Regions from separate parts of the Homo sapiens genome. Here region 2 is linked to region 1. The links come from fine-mapping of genetic effects on gene expression. Tissue or cell type: tibial nerve. Region 1 holds a variant in brackets; the other region holds the start of a gene. All regions are shown on one strand. Distances are from middle to middle.

Region 1 (8,106 bases):
CAGCAGGAAGGGGTTGGTTCTGTGTTTGCCATTTTCCTCGTAATTGCCAAAGTGGAGGCAGAGATGTTGTGCAATTTCAGAGAGGAGACCTCCAGGGGCTAGGCAGGGACCTCTAGCAGCTCATCAGCAGCAATACTGGTGGGATCCTACCCAATGAGGCCTAACAGGGGGTTAAGGAGAGACGCACACTCTCTGGGCCCCTGGGCCAGTGAACAGACTCATTTGTACGTTTTCATCTCTGGCTGGAAATGTACATTATGAACTTAGAGAGAACGTCCCAACTTTTCAAATGTCCATGGGAAATTACCAAAATACATGATGCCCCTGGCCTCAAATTTCCAAATGGAGAATGGTGTAGGCTTCATTCCTTGACAACAAATGAAATGAGACTAAGAATGAATAACAAAAAAATAAACTAAGACATCTCAATTTCATGTAGCAAAAGTACACCCCTTATTGGTAACAGCCTAATTGGTAGAAGCAGATAATTGGAAACAACCTAAATGTTCGACAATAGATGTAGAATAGTATACATTAAAATACTGTTGGCCGGGCGCAGCGGCTCACGCCTGTAATCCCAGGACTTTGGGAGACTGAGGCGGGTGGATCATCTGAGGTCAGGAGTTTGAGACCAGCCTGGCCAGCATGGTGAAACCCTGTCTCTACTAAAAATACAGAAAATTAGCCGGGCATGGTGGCATGTGCCTGTAATCTCAGCTACTCAGGAGGCTGAGTCAGGAGAATCGCTTGAACTGGGGAGGTGGAGGTTGCAGTGAACTGAGATCACGCCATTGCACTCTAGCCTGGGCAACAAGAGTGAAACTCCATCTCAAAATAAATAAAATAAAATAAAATATAGTTACAGAATCCATCTTCTGCCTGTATTGGTGGCTCTTCAGTTGAAAATTAAGCATTTAGAAGTTGGTATGCTCCCAAACGACCTAACTTCTAAAATGCAAAGGCACTGGCAAGCTTAGGATCTGATGACTGTCAGATACCTTGCAAATTCCTCATCTGTGGCTAGTGAGAGATCTCTAGGCCTACTGGAGCAGAAAGTATCATGCAACAGTTTGAGGGAGACTTGTGGTTGGTTCTGGATCCCTTTGTCTGGGGTTGCTACGCAACAGTAAGAAAGGTGAGAGGAGTTTCCTTATTTTCTACAGCTCCTCATTTGTAACAGGTTTCTGTTGAGAGCAGCTCATGTCTTGGTGGTGATGTTTTGATCTGGAGTCCCTTTTGCTTTCCAAAAGTGAATTTTCTTAACAGAGTAAGCAAAATGAATCTCTACTGCTACATCTGGAGCGTTCCTAACTGGGGGAAAGATGTTTAAAGCAATGGATACCCCAATCTGGAGTGATCCATTTTCTTTAAAAACTAGCTTCTGGCCGGGCTGGTGGCTCACGCCTGTAATCCCAGCACTTTGGGAGGCCGAGGTGGGTGGATCACCTGAGGTCAGGAGTTCAAGACCAGACTGGCCAACATAGTGAAACCTCGTCTCTACTAAAAATGTATGTCTTGGCCAGGTGCAGTGGCTCACGCCTGTAATCCCAGCACTTTGGGAGGCCGAGGCGGGCAGATCACAAGGTCAGGAGTTCAAGACCAGCCTGACCAACATGGTGAAACCCCGTCTCTACTAAAAATACAAAAATTAGCCGGGCATGGTGGCACACACCTGTAATCTCTCCCAGCTAGTCAGGGGGCTGAGGAAGGAGAATTGCTTTAACCTGGGAGGCGGAGGTTGCAGTGAGCCGAGATCGCACCACTGCACTCCAGCCTGGGCGACAAGAACGAAACTTCGTCTCAAACAAACAAAAAAACTAAGTCTTATTAAAAACTCTATGAACATTTTGCAAAAGTACTGGATCTAATTCAAAGTAGATCATATTGCCATGTTAAAATACAAAATTAGCTGGGCGTGTGGCACGCATCTATAATCCCAGCTACCCGGCAGGCTGAGGCAGGAGAATTGCTTGAACCCAGGAGGTGGAGGTTGCAGTGCGCCAAGATCGCCCCACTACACTCCAGCCTGGGCGACAGAGTAAGACTCTGTCTCAAAAACATAAAAAACAAAAAACAAAAAACTGGCTCTAGGCTGGGTGTGGTGGCTCACGCCTGTAATCCCAGCACTTTGGGAGGCCGAGGCAGGCAGATCACCTGAGGTCAGGAGTTTGAGACCAGACTGGCCAACATAGTGAAACCCCATCTCTACTACAAATAAAAAATTAGCTGGGCGTGGTGGCAGGTGCCTGTAGTCCCAGCTAATCTGGAGGCTGAGGTGGGAAAATTGCTTGATCCCAGGATGTTGAGGCTGCAGTGAGCTGTGATTGCCCCACTGTGCTCCAGCCTGGGTGACAGAGCAAGACCCTGTCTCAAAAAACAAAACAAAACAAAAGCTGGCGTCTCTTTCAGAGTATATTCTTTCTTCTGGGCAACCACCAGAGACTACCAATTCTCTCAGGCTTCCAGCTGGAAAAAAAAAAAAGAAAAGAAAAAAAATGGCCACTCTCATCTGTGCCTTCCTCCATATTCTCTGCCTGCACCCACTTCTGTCATCTGGCCAAAACTGCTGATAGTTCATGTAAGGGGTTGAGCGTAAAGAGTTCTTATACCAGGCATGGTATAATCCCAGCTACTAAAGAGGCTGAGGCAGGGGAGTCCCTTGAGCCCAGGAGTTTAAGATCAGCCTGGGCAACATAGCAAGAGCCTATCTCAAAATTAAAAAAAAAGAAAAAGAAAGAAAAAGAATAAACAAAGGATTCCTAGTGTTTCGCCTGCCCCTAGCAGAGAGGAGAGCTCCCCTAGCAGTAGCTTCTGGAGACTAGATTCTTCTTGGATGTTCTACTTTTTCTTTCTACTCACTCCCAGTTATGGAGCTTCAGCCTTCATCTTACCGGGGCTTGGTGGGGGCACAAAGCCATCTTGAAGTTCAGCTCTTCTCATTCCTAACTACCCCACTACTGTTGTCTCATCACTAAATCGTTTCCTATAATACGGCATCTGCAAGTGCCTATAAAATAATCCTTCATTAATGGAAGTTTAGCTTCTAAATGTTTTCTCTGATGCCTTTTCATTGCCCCAGGCTTTGGGAGAACATGCGCAGGTGTGTCTAGGCTCTTTAGTGCTGGTCTGGGCTACAGATAATGATGCTTAAATCATACGTGAGGCTTGGAGTGAGTTGAACAAGGATTAGCCTATCTCATCTAGAAATTGATTTAAACCAAGTGGGGACTCAATCCAGGGCTCTCCCTACCTTTCTCCCCTCTTAATCATTTCCTGCCTTAGTTCATGCTGTGTAAGGAATAAATGAGCAATCACAAACATTCCTGAAATGAGGATACCCGTAAGAATTAGGTTTTAAAAGTGATTTCCTCCTCAGGATGTGGTCTGCATGCAAAAAAAAAAAAAAATTAAATAAATAGAACAACAGTACATAGAAGACAAAGTGAACAATTTAACTTGAAAGCAGGTTCTGCTCCACAAAAACTGTGGTGGAGGTATGGCTGGATTTTTTTCTTCTTAAAGAAGAGGAAAAAGTTATTGATAATGAAAAGGAAATGATCTGAAATGTTTGGTCTAGAGGGCTACTCCATGTCAGAGGCAAAGTTGCCTCTGCTTCCTGAATATATTATGCCTTTGAATATACTGTGTTACTGATTTACTGTAAGTCTTAGTTTCACTTTCTATGTTTGTTTATGTTAAACCAATTTATCCTGTATGCGAGAGCTAGCTTAGTTTTGGATTGGACGTCTTTAGAAGCTATATTAGTTCAGAAGGGGTTGGGAAGTATTGGCTAAATGAC[G/A]CAGCTTCCAGTATGATTTATACCCAGAAACCTTTGCATGAAGATTCTGACTCAAAATATCCATTGTGTCCATAAACTAATACATTGTTTTCTATTTTTGTAGACATTTCCTGTTTAACTTTCACATACTCTGTAAAGTAGGTGTGCCTATTACTTTGTTTGTTCTTTCAGTTGGACAAACCAAAGCTCAGCAAAACCAAGTTATTTTGCTCTCTTCCCTCCCGACCCCCCTCGCCCCAAGGTTACCGTAAAAAGCGGGAATAGAATCAGTGTTGGCTGCCTCCTAGCTTAATGTTCCATTTCTTGGGTTAAGCCAATCTCAGAGCACTTTTAATTTACCTATTTGTTTAAGCAATCTCAAGGTAAATATGCTTGAGTCAAATTAAAACCAAGTGTTTAATGTGCTTATTTTCAGAATGATTTTACTTATAGTAATTGCCTGCAATACATTGTGTTCTTAACAGGGCAAAGAAGGCTTTATTTAAACACCCCTATCTGGTGACTTAGTCCATTTTCTTTTCATCTGATGATAACATCTGGCAGCACCCTCAGTTCCCAAGTGAGTCACATAATGCACAATGTTGCCCTTGTCTGGTTTTCTCTTAGCTGGGACCATCTAATGGGATTTAGGCTAAGGAATTTCTGCAAGCATAATAGTAGAATCTTAGATTTGGAAGGGACTTTATTGGTTACTTGGTTGCAATTCCCACCCAATGCAATCACCTCTTCCACAACATACCTGAGAGTGGCGGGCACTCCTTGTCTCCCAACTTCCAGAGACAGGGCGCTCACAGCTGGGCAGGACAGTTCATTCCATTATTGAACACTGAATTGCTGGAAGGCTCTTCCTCATGCTGTCATGATGAACTGTCTCTGTAACTTCCACCCCTTGGCCCTAATTTGGTCATCATATGACAAATTATATTACAGTCATATAATTCAAGTGCACCCTAACGTTGAAATTCTGCTTTCACGTGATGGACACATGCATAGTTTTCATATCATCCCCTCAGAAGATGACTCTTCCTAGGTAAACATTTCTTGTTATCTTAATTGTTCATTCCCCTTTTGTGGCTTCTGTAATCAGGATTCTTCAATTTAACAGAGGCAGAAAACCCAACTCAAAATGACTCGAGTAAAGAAAAAAAATTGGCTTCTGTAACTGAAAAGTGCAGAGGAAGAGGCAGCTTCTGACCCAGCTGGATCCAGGCTCAGCCAGTGCCATCAGGGCCTGGTGTCACCTGCCATCTGTGTCATTCACAGTTCCATCAAGAGAGAGCAGCCACGTGATCATTTGAACATTAGGAAAAGTGTAATCTAAAAAAGTATTTTTTTTTTTTTATTTTTGAGATGGAGTCTCACTCTTGTTGCCCAGGCTGGACTGCAATGGCATGATCTCGGCTCACTGCAACCTCCACCTCCCGGGTTCAAGTGATTCTCCTGCTTCAGCTTCCCAAGTAGTTGGGATTACAGTGCCCGCCACCAAACCAGCTACTTTTGTATTTGTACTAGAGTTGGGGGTTTCACCATGTTGGCCAGGCTGGTCTTGAACTCCTGACCTCAGGTGATCCACATGCCTTGGTCCCCCAAAGTGCTGAAATTACAGGCAGGAGCCACCACACCCAGCCAATCTAAAGAATTATTAACTATTAACAGGGGGCTGGGATAACAGTGGATTGGCTAGTAAGAAATAAAGAGAATTTGAAAGAATGCAGGAATAGCAGATTTAAGGAGTACTACTTCTCCTAGGGCTGAGATAGAGCACCTAAGGAAGAATCTGCTACTGCTGGCCCCCCACTCCTGACCCCCTGGGTTGAGACCCAGAACTTGTCAAAGAGCACATGGCTGTGTCTCATTGATTGACAGAGGAGTTGCTGTTATGCAGTGTCAGTGGAACTTGCTAGAAATCTATTCCCTGGAACTTGCTGGAAATTCATCTCTAGGATGCTCAGGAAAGCAATTCATGGGAAAGTATTTCCCATGGGTACCTGAGGGAGGTGCCCTGGTAAGCTGCTGGTACTGAAGGAGCCAGGTGCTAGAGGAGCTGTCAGTGTTGCAAGAGCTGGACACTGGAGAAGCAGCCATGCTCCCAGTGAACACACTGGAACCAGGAAGCAAACTGTATGTCTTCTGCAGTGTCTCTTCAGCGCCCTCTACTGAAAAAGTTTAATAACATGACAAATAGTAAAAAAATACTTTGGGGCCCAGCTAGATTTTTGCTCAACAAACGATGAAGGGTAAATATGGAGCTGAGAGGCAATAAACTGACAGCCGCACACCAACTTTGCTTTCCTTTTTTTCTCTACAGGCTCTACAGTCTCATGTACCTTATGACGACAAGATGGTGGGTGGCAACTCCAGGCTTTTAGCCCTTCATTTTGGTGACCCCGATGCAAAGAGAGCACTTTTGTCCCCCAGCATTATGCCAGATTAAGTTTGACTCTGTTTTGCCAAGCTTGTGTCACATGTTTGTTCCTGAGCCAATCATAGTGTTCAGGTGGTTTTGTGGCTCTGATTGGTCAGCCCTTAGGTGTGAGTGAGTCAACCTTACCCCTGTCAAATGTATGGAGGAAATTCCAAGGAAAATCAACCTGTTGATACCAGAAGAGGGAGAAATGGCTGATAGGCAGGCAAAAATCTACTGTACTGGTGGTTGTTAGGAACAGAGTATGGGGCCAGATATAGCTCGATCAATCAATGACTGTTTTCTCACCTGTAAAGTGGAAATAATAATAATGCCTGTTTGAGTTGGAATGGATAAATAAATGCCACACCTTTTTCTTAACCAAATTTAGAAACAATTGAGAAATTGTCTCAAAAATCAGTAGGATGGCAAATAAAATGTCAGCTTTATTACTGAGAAAAGTTCATATTGAATAACATTCAGGGGCTGACCCTGTGTCATGGTCTCTGGTAGTGTTAAACAGCCCACAGGACCCTGTTCCCTGACCTCCTGCCCCTCTTGCTATGTAGATTGGCTGCTGTAAAACATATGGCATAGACATCCAGTGACTTTCTTTGGAGATAGGCAAATCTCAAAGAGAAGGATAGGAGTGAGCCAGTCCGGGCATGCATGGTTCTTTTGTCTGAACTCCCAATAAAATAAGCTATTCTTTCTTTCTTGGAGAAGAAGTTGGAGTAGGGCAAGAGGACAGGATTGTGATTCTAGCAGAGTTCTCTCCACAATCCCTAGCTTTTTGTTCTCTTAATTGATTGGGCTTACCATTAAGGCTGTGATCAACCAGGGCTTTAACTACCCACTTGGGGGAGATCAGGTGTCTATCAGAGCCTGCTTCTTCCTTTATAAGGCTGCTCCATCAGTTCCAACCACTGCTTCTTCGGGTTTTCTCTTGGCCACTTAACATTATTTTATTTTTATTTTTTAATGTGATAGAGACAAGGTCTCACTATGTTGCCCAGGCTGGTCTCAAACTCCTGACCTCAAGCAATCCTCCTGCCTCCACCTCCCAAAGTACTGGGATTAAGCTGTGAGCCACTGCACCTGTATTTTAAATTCTAATTCATTACCAACATTTAAAGGGTGGGTGATATAGCACATAAAAATTCACATTTCCTAGTTCTTTTGGGAAAAAAGAGGTGAAACAACTTGGGATCCTCATTCTTCCGTGGAAATAATCAGTTGGAACTGAGTATTGGCTGCCAGTTTCAAATAGAGCATGGCCTCTCCTATCTTCTGCAATCCCCACTACTCCCAGTTCTTATATCTAGTCACCTCGCTCACACACCTACTTGCCTGGTCCCTGTACGCATTTACATTTGTAACTCCCTATGAAAGTAGGCATCTTACAGTTGCACTTAAACACAAAGTCAGTACCTTTAAACACAAAGGTACTGACTTTCCTTTTGTCCTGGACTGTCTTTCTCAGCCTCGTCTAAGGATGTTTATGTAGTGAACAGCCTTGGAAGATATAGTGTCCCCTCTGGAGCAAAGGCCATTATAACTGCCCATTCTAAAAGAGTCATGCTTCCTAATCTTTGGCTTCCTCATCCCACTGTAACACACTCCATTGTGTGTGCAGTTGCCATTGGGCTCTCTTCACCCTTTCCTCTGTGTTTCTTTTGTTATGTGACTGCAGCCCCCTCACAGCAAGGTAGATTGTTCCAGGCTGGGCACCTGACCCTCGAGCAGCACTACATTGGTTGGTCAGCACTGATCATGTGGCCTGGCTGGGAAAGATGAGCTGCGGCAGCCAGAGTTTCTCTCTGAGAGAATAAAGTTGTTAGTGACAGGATCAGGAAACAAAAGGATGCCCAGAAAGACAGAAGATTAGAATTGGGGCCATGGA
Region 2 (8,106 bases), 33 kb after region 1:
AATCCAGGTATTTGCCATCCTATCATTTCTTGAATGTTCTATTTTCAATTAAAACTTAACCAAACTATTCACTTTTACAAGATACACGTTAGATTCAAGAACAATAACGTGATCTTTTTTGCCTTTCAGGATTAAAGAATCGGGTTAGTCAGTCTTGGTGGTGCATGCCTGTAATCCCAGTTACTGAAGAGGCTGAGAGGGAGGATCCCTTGAGCCCAGGAGTTTGAATCCAGCATGGGCAGCAAAGCAAGACCCAATCTCTTATTTTCAAATGTAAAAAATTAAAAAAACAAATTGGGGAAATATAAACTCAAGTTTTACTAATCTTTTCAAGTTCCTCTATGTTTTAACAATGTGTCATACACTTTACACATTATCTTATTTCCTCCATTCAGCAGTTTATGAGGAAGTTCCTTTTTTTTTCTTTCTTTTTTTTTTTTTTTTTAAGAGAAAGGGTCTCCTTCCATCATTCAGGCTGGAGTGCAGTGGCTGGATCATTGTTCACTGCACTGCACTGCAGCCTTGACCTCCTGGGCTCAAGGAATCCTTCCACATCAGCCTCCTGAGGAGATGGGACTCCAAGTGCCCAGCTAATTTAAAAATTGTTTTGTAGAGACACAGTCTCACTATGTTCCCCAGGCTGGTCTTGAACTCCTGGCTTCAAGCAATCCTCCTGTCTCGACCTCCCAAAGTGCTGGGATTATAGGCCGGGTGTGGTGGTTTACACCTGTAATCCCAACACCTTGGGAGGCTGAAGCAGGTGGATCACTTGAGGTCAGGAGTTTGAGACCAGCCTGGCTAACATGGTGAAAACTCGTCTCTACTAAAAAGAAAATACAAAACATATCCAGGCATGATGGCACATGCCTGTAATCCCAGCTACTTGGGAGGCTGAGGCAGAAGAATCACTTGAACCTGGGAGGTGGAGGTTGCAGTGAGCCAAGATCACGCCACTATATTCCAGTCTGGGCCACAGAGTGAGACTCTTGTCTCAAAAAAAAAAAAAAAAAATTGGGCGGGTGGGAGGATGGGGCTGGGCGTGAGCCACGTGTCTGGCCAGTAATTCCTATTTTTATCTTCATTTTACGGTTGAGATGTGAGGCTCAAAGAGCTGTCTTATCACTTGACTTGAACAGGGTACCACAATTACAGGTTCGGGTAGGAGTGAATCTTACTTCCTTTCAGTGACTTTTGAGTTCCCTGCTTTGTTCCAGATTGGTCAGTGCTATCCAATAGAACTTCTGCAATGATGGAAATGTTTTATATGTGCACTGTCCAATAGTCATGTGGCTATTAAGCACTTGAAATGTGGTCAGTGTGACTGAGAAACTAAATTTTTAATTTAAATAAATTTACATTTAATTAAGACATGTGGTTAGTGGCTACTGTATTTGTTAGCACAGATCTAAATCAACGGTCTCCAAACTGGGGTGCACGCAGCCCAGGGAGGGCATAGACTATGAAGAGTACAGAAAGAAAACATACATATATATATTTAAAATCATTATTTCTGATTTTTTTGTGTGTGTATGTTGTTTTTTAATGTACCTAACATACTAGGTATATTATAATAGGTGTATGTGTGTATATAAATACACACTATATATATCATACATATAATTCTGTGTGTATGTGTGACTGGGTCTTGCTATGCTGCCCAGGCTGGATTCAAACTCCTGGCCTCAAGTGATCCTCCAGCCTCAGCCTCCTGAGTAGCTGGGTATATTACATATGTAACAACTTTTATTTCACACTTACGTAGCACTATATAAATGTGTATATTATGTATGTAATAATTTTATTTCACACTTGTAAAGCACTGTGTGCCAGGTATATGCTTTACATATATTAATTCATTTCATCTGCATAATGACTCTGTGATATACTTTTATTATCTCCATTTTACAAGTGAAAAAACCAAAGTTATCTTTGGATGTGCCAAGGTTGTTAGAGACAAAGCCAATGTTTGATTACAGTCATTCTGGCTTCTATCTATGCACTTTACTTAAGCTAAATAAGTACATGGGAAGTGAGGAGGGCAAACATTTTTACTAATGTGAGTGACCAAAAATATTTGATAACTAATGCTCTAGGCTTGACCTTAGACAACCAGTCAGACATAGCAATTCCTACTTTCAAAATTTAAAAGGATTTTAGGCATTATTTAGTCCTGCCTTTTCCCCACTGATAGATATTGCTGTGCACGTAGAGGTGAATGAGGTAGAGTGATGGTACGGACAAGCGTCCTGGTGACATCTGTACTCATCTAGAGACAACTCTAACACACGAAAGATTGTGTGTGTGTGATCATACAATTTTCCCCATTTAAAAAAAGTTCATCTTTGCCAATTTTGTTCTAATTATTAATTTAAAAAAAGACTTGTTTGTTTCAGAGACAAACTCTATTGAAATAGGGGAGGATAGGAGGCAACAAGCCTGGAGGAGGAAGATCCCAGGTGGAAGAGCAGGGCGGAACCCAAGTCTGCTCTCATCCCTAGGTGCTCATCCACGTGCAGCTTGGCTGGTAGTGACTCTAATTCAACAGCAATCAAACACAGGTTAAAACAACTTACTGAAGTAATAGATGAATAAGAAATATAAAATTTACCAAAACCCAATTTCCTCCTACACACCACACACACTTTGTTTAAAATAAGTATGCTGTTCTCCCTACTTCGCCCCCATCCCTAGTCTACCCTAAGCAACTTCGTTACCTCTCTACGAACCCATCAGAGCGCTTAGCTATCAGATCAATTAGGGCACATTTAACCTTATATACTATGCAATAATTACAGTTTCTAGGTATGTGAAGTAGGCTGATGGGGTTTTGTGTCGTCAAAGTTTTGGGAAGACCAGAATTCTAAAGTATGCATTTAAAAGAAAGGGCTGGGTGGAGCACGTAGGGTATGTGTGTGTCGCCGCAGTTCCCTTGGTTTCAAGAGGAGGGATTTTAGGTAAAGCAAAGGGAAAGTGTGACGGAAAGGATTGCTGTGCTAAATGGGAGCAGCAAATGCCAGTACCGATGCCTTTGGGCATTTAGATCCAAAGCCTGCCTTTCTCGTTCTTCAGTTCCCCGGGGAGGCCTGTTGTGGGTGGGGAGGTGTCTTCCTTCTATTATTCCAGTCTCCCTAAGAACTTCGTAGACAGTTGAGCAATACTTTCTAAGGGCTGGTCGGAGTCAGGAAAGTCAGGTAAGGCGCCTCACGTGCACCTCAACGCGTCGCGGGAGCGCGTCCCGACCTCACACATGGACAAGCTCCGCCCGCGGCCGGCCTGAGTGGGTGTGGCCTCCGCCAAAGGCCCCGCCCCTAGAGCGCGTCGCGAGGGGCGCGAGGGGCGGGGCGAGGGAACTGGCAAGAAAGGGCGGGGAGCGAGGGGTGTGGGTGTGCTCGTGCCCGCGCGCTCGCGCCCGGAGTGTGGACGGGGGCGCGCCCGTGCGCGCGCAGGGGAGAGGCCAGCCCAGGCAGCCGTTGTCGGGTTCGACTGGAGGGGCGGGGGAGTCACCTGCGAGCGGCTGCGCTGGCGGCCAGCCCGCCCACCGCGTCTGGATCGCGCCGGCTGCGCGGGGCTGCGGACAGCACACACCCTGGAAGGCCCCGGCGGGGAACGGGCAGAGTCCGCGCCCTGCGTCCGCGACCAGGAGGATCGGACCTTCGCCTTCGCTGTCGCCGCCGCCGCCGCCCGCGGCCGTCGGGGTAGGTGAAGCCCGGGTGGGTGGTCCGCCGGCTCCTGACGGGCCGGGAGGGGAGACGCGAAACTTTCCGGGCGCTTCCTCCCGCGGTCCCGGAGCCGTCGCAGCGCCGGGAGGTGTCGTCGTCGCGGGCGGTGGCGGCCGACGCCATGTTGGGGTCTGTGAGAAACGGGGCGCTCCCGGCCGCTCCCCTCGCGCCGGGGCCGGCCCGCGGGCCAGTTGCCGCCGCCGTCCCGCCAGCCCGGGAGCGAGCCGCGCCCGCCCGTAGGACGCCGCCGCCGCCGCGGGGGGACGGGGGCCGCCGGGTAGGGTCCGGTCCACGGGTCTGCGGGGCGGGGGCCGGCGGACGCGGGAAGGAGCCCCGAGGCCGGGCGAGAAGTTGTGGGGCCTGAGGACGGGGGTCCTGGACACGGCCGGGGGCGTCTCAGGGTCGCGACAAATTTCTGGCCGAAAAGTTTGCAGGGTCTGCGTGTCGGGGACCTTATGACCTGAACTACATATTTGTATGTCACTTGGGAGACGAAAATGGCCCCGCAGAACTTGCTCTGATAGAAGCGATGGTTTATTTATTTGGAGCCTTTTCAAGTTTTATGATCCTTTGACGAATTTATTTTTCTTTTTAAAAATGTGATTGAAGGCCGAGAGCGCGCTGCCGGTGTTGCTTGAATAGCCTTGTGTGCTCTCCGTACATTCCAGCAATAACTTGAGTGTGCGGTGGAAGTGGGTATGAAGGTTACAGACACCTAAGCCCTCCTCGGTAATTCATAGACTCACAAAACGCGTTGTTGATAAATGCCTTCTTTGTCGTGTTGTGTAGTACGTTGCTGAAGAGACTCATTAAAGAAAGATTTAGACAGAAACTTTGAGAGTCTTAAAGGCATGTGTTCTCTTAAGAATAAGAAGTGATCTTGACAGTTTGAAGTTTTTTTCCCCTCCCTTTAGTTTCTTAAGGGTGAATGCCTACCGCGTTTTGAGCATTTACTTTTTTTAAATACTCTGGCAGCTCGTGGGGTCTTCACGTTAATTCAGTATTAACGAAGGCTTCATTATAATCTCTTTGGGTCCCGACCACACGGGGAATGAATGGTATTAAGCTATTTATTTGGAAAGCACACGTAATCGGCCTCTAAATAAAACTAGTATAGTGACTAAGCTTCAGAAGAAAATATTCAGCCTCAGTAAATGAATCTAAATGATTTTTAAATAAAGACATCTTGCTTTAAAATTCTGTTAAATGAACTGAAAAGGCTCTTAAACACAAATACAGTAAGCCCTAAAACCCCAAATTCTTGGAGAATTTTACTTTTTAGATCTAAAAATACAGCTTCTGCTCATATTTGATTGTCAATTTCTTTTTCCTTTTTTCTCTTTTTCCTTCCTTCCTTTTCCTTTTCCTAGACAGGGTCTCTGTCTGTCGCCCAGGCTGGAGTGCAGTGGTGTCATCTCCGCTCACTGCAGCCTCAAACTCCCGGGGCCCAGGTGATCCACCTCGGCCTCCTGAGTAGTTAGGACTACAGGAGCGCATCACCACACCTGGCTAATTTTTGTTTGAATTTTGTGGAGAGAAGGTTTTGCCATGTTGCTCAGGCTGTATTGCCAATTTCTGTTGTTCTTAAAAATTCTTTTAGTTTTGCTTCATTGTCAAGTAAATGGCATTATAACATTTTTTATTTAGAAATGAAATTAACTAATTTCACAAATGTAGCAGCCAAACTGGTATTTAACTGAGATCTTATGACTCTGAAGCCTTTTCATTTTTCCTGTAGCATAACTTTGTAGGATACATAACTCAGTCTTCTGGAGCAATCTGTCCATCTCGTTTGCTCTTATCACTGCTCTGACTTGAATTTAGTTCTTCAGTATAAATACTTATTTCCCAGCGAGCTGATTTACAGGTGATCCTTGTGATGAAATTTTTTCCTTAAAAATACTTAAGCCTATACTCTTTGAAGCCTTTTCTGCTCTGTTCTCTCATTCCACTCCCTTGCCCTCTCCAGAAATCAATTAATTTCTCCCATGGTATTACTGTAAATATCGCATAGATTCTGTCATGACATCTCCTTGACAGCAGGCAACACATCGGGTCTGATTTGCCTCTTCATTCCCTGCATGCCAAGAACATAGCAGATGCTCAGGAAAGGTTTGAATGGATGAGTACACGTATGTTTGTTCCTTGTAAATATGCTTCATGAATTTCTTTTGAAATTGTAAATTCCATGAGCATCATAGTTAAATCTTCTTTGTAGTCTTTTTCCCAATACATGCCATCAACTCCATTAAATCCACAGATTGGTTTTTATTATATATACACACACACACACACACACACACACACACACACACACACATGTTTTGTTGTTGTTTTGTTGAGAATTTAACTTAGTACCTGAGTGAATTTTCGCCTGGGGGTACAGAACTTGAATATTTATGAAATTTCTAAGTAGATAATGGATTAAAGTATAATTACTGATGTATGAGAGAGAAGCCATGGATCATCAAAAGGATTATAATCATAATTTTAAGTGTGATTGAATGTATTTGAACTTGATGGAAATATTGTTAATGCTTGAAAAATTTAAAGGTCATATTTATACATTTAAGCTCTTGGAACAAATCTCATTATAGCTCTATCAATTATTGTTTTGCCGGAATTGTCTTAGAATTTTTAGAATGCCCTGCTTAATAGAAAGTATATGAAAAATTTTTTTGTTGTTGTTTATCTTTGATGAACCAGCTTTGTACATGAGCTGCCTGCTTAATATTTAAAAGCAATGTATGTGTTGACTTAACTGAATAAAAAATACTTCATGGATACACTTTCACAGTGCTGTTTTAAGTTGGAAAACCTCTCTAGGTTAAGGTGTTTTGTAATTCTATAATGCCTATAGAATTCGGGGTTTATTTCCTGCCCCCACCCAAGATAACTTTCTCCCCTGTCAAACTGTAAACCACAAACTAATGTGCTCAATTTAGGGAGGTCCTGAGAAGAGAATAAAAGGCATTCAAATAGTTGCTGTGAATGCACTGGAAAGAAAGCAAGTTGCATGTAGGATGGACTGGAACAAATAAACCTTGTCCTGACTCAGCTCCTTGCTGGCTTGTGACTCTTGAACAAGCCGCTTCACTTCTGTAAGCTTCACTGGACTCATTTGTGAAATGGGCACAGAAATATTTGCCTCAGTGTTAGCGTGAGGGTCACCCAAGATTCGATGTTTGTGGAAGGGCCTGGAATACGATAGTAGCTATTATTTTAACAAATGAACAGAGTGGCAGTGAATTATATAGAATCATAGAATTTAAAAATTTTTAAAGGGAAGCAGCCTGTAGGAATACCTAGTTCAGTTTTCAGCCTTGGCTGCACATTAAAATCTCCTGAAGAGCTACTTAAAAAGAATATTGCCTGGATCCCACCCCAGGACAAATAAATCAGAATTACTGGGTTTGGGGACAGAACAAAGGTAATTTTGCCTCTTTGTTAAAACATCCCCGATTTTAGTGTTCAGTCAGGTGGAGAACCTTTGATTTAACTCAATTTCCCATCTCCTTTCTTATGCTTTTCATTTTGTAGTTGAGTAAAATGCAGAGGGGTTAGCTGCCAGCCAGATTCCTATCAGTCAGGCTAGAAAGGATGTATTAAATATTTGCAGCTGAGGAAAGTGAAGTGCATAGAGGTTAAGTAAGGGTTACATTCATTTCTGGCCAGAATGGCCACATTTGGAACTACACTTCACTAACTCCGGTGACCCCCACTGCTACTCTACAACAGCAGCCTGCATGTTGTGACCATGTTACTTGTCATCATTCAGAACCACTCTACCTCAGGTCTTAAACCCTGTGGCCAGATGGCGATGCAAGGGTCTGTTTTCTCTTTCTCTTTTCTGTCATAACTGGTTAAGCAGCTTTTTGTCCTTATTGTCACCTCCAGTCCCTCCTAGGCCATTAGTTGTCTTCCCTCTTTTCAACCTTGAACTCTGTAGTTCATGTTCTAACCATGAACTCACTAGACCACATAGTCCCTCCTCTCCTTGACCTTTGCTGGGTGTAACTGGTCAGTTTTCTACCTTTGTCCCTGCCCTACACTCTCCCCCAAAGTCACGCTTTTGGTGATCATTACATACTTGTTTTCTACCTGCTTTATACTAGTTACTTTCTAATCCTTTTCTTATCCCCAAGTTGACTTATTTTCTCTGTTGCTTTTTCACTCCAGTCAGGTTGCTAACCCCAGTCTCGAAACATGTTGAGCAGATGACCTTACTTCCTTCTAAAATGATTAAGATTTTATGATGTGAATTTTCTATTTTCTTCTTTGCACCAACTTCTTCATCTTCCCCCCCCCCCCGCCCCTTTTTCAGAAGTGGAACTATTTTTAATTCTTTGTACTTGTTTCATTTAAACAACAGTTGGGGAAAAAGAAA

Which allele goes with the higher level. Positions count from the first base shown, and alleles are read on the strand shown. Sizes are in standard deviations (SD) of each study's normalised expression.
For the expression in tibial nerve of the gene that starts at base 3,450 in region 2, A is the low allele of the variant in region 1 and G is the other (small effect, 0.38 SD a copy in GTEx).

What was found. PIP is the estimated chance that this variant, and not a neighbour inherited with it, causes the effect.
Region 2: PLEKHF2 starts here. The variant in region 1 is fine-mapped to the expression of PLEKHF2 in tibial nerve (GTEx, PIP 0.97).

Annotation. Positions count from the first base shown.
Region 1 is chr8:95,096,869-95,104,974 of GRCh38, forward strand. It overlaps a transcript of NDUFAF6 not described here. Among named protein-coding and RNA genes, the nearest start is that of MIR3150BHG, 28 kb to the left of the region's middle. RefSeq lists enhancers at 3,537-3,626, 3,957-4,016. The variant G/A (reference allele first, on the strand shown) is at 3,800.
Region 2 is chr8:95,130,336-95,138,441 of GRCh38, forward strand. PLEKHF2 (pleckstrin homology and FYVE domain containing 2) reads left to right here and starts at 3,450. Exons shown (of 2, transcript NM_024613.4): 1 at 3,450-3,695. RefSeq lists silencers at 3,192-3,831, 3,852-4,011 and an enhancer at 7,524-7,673.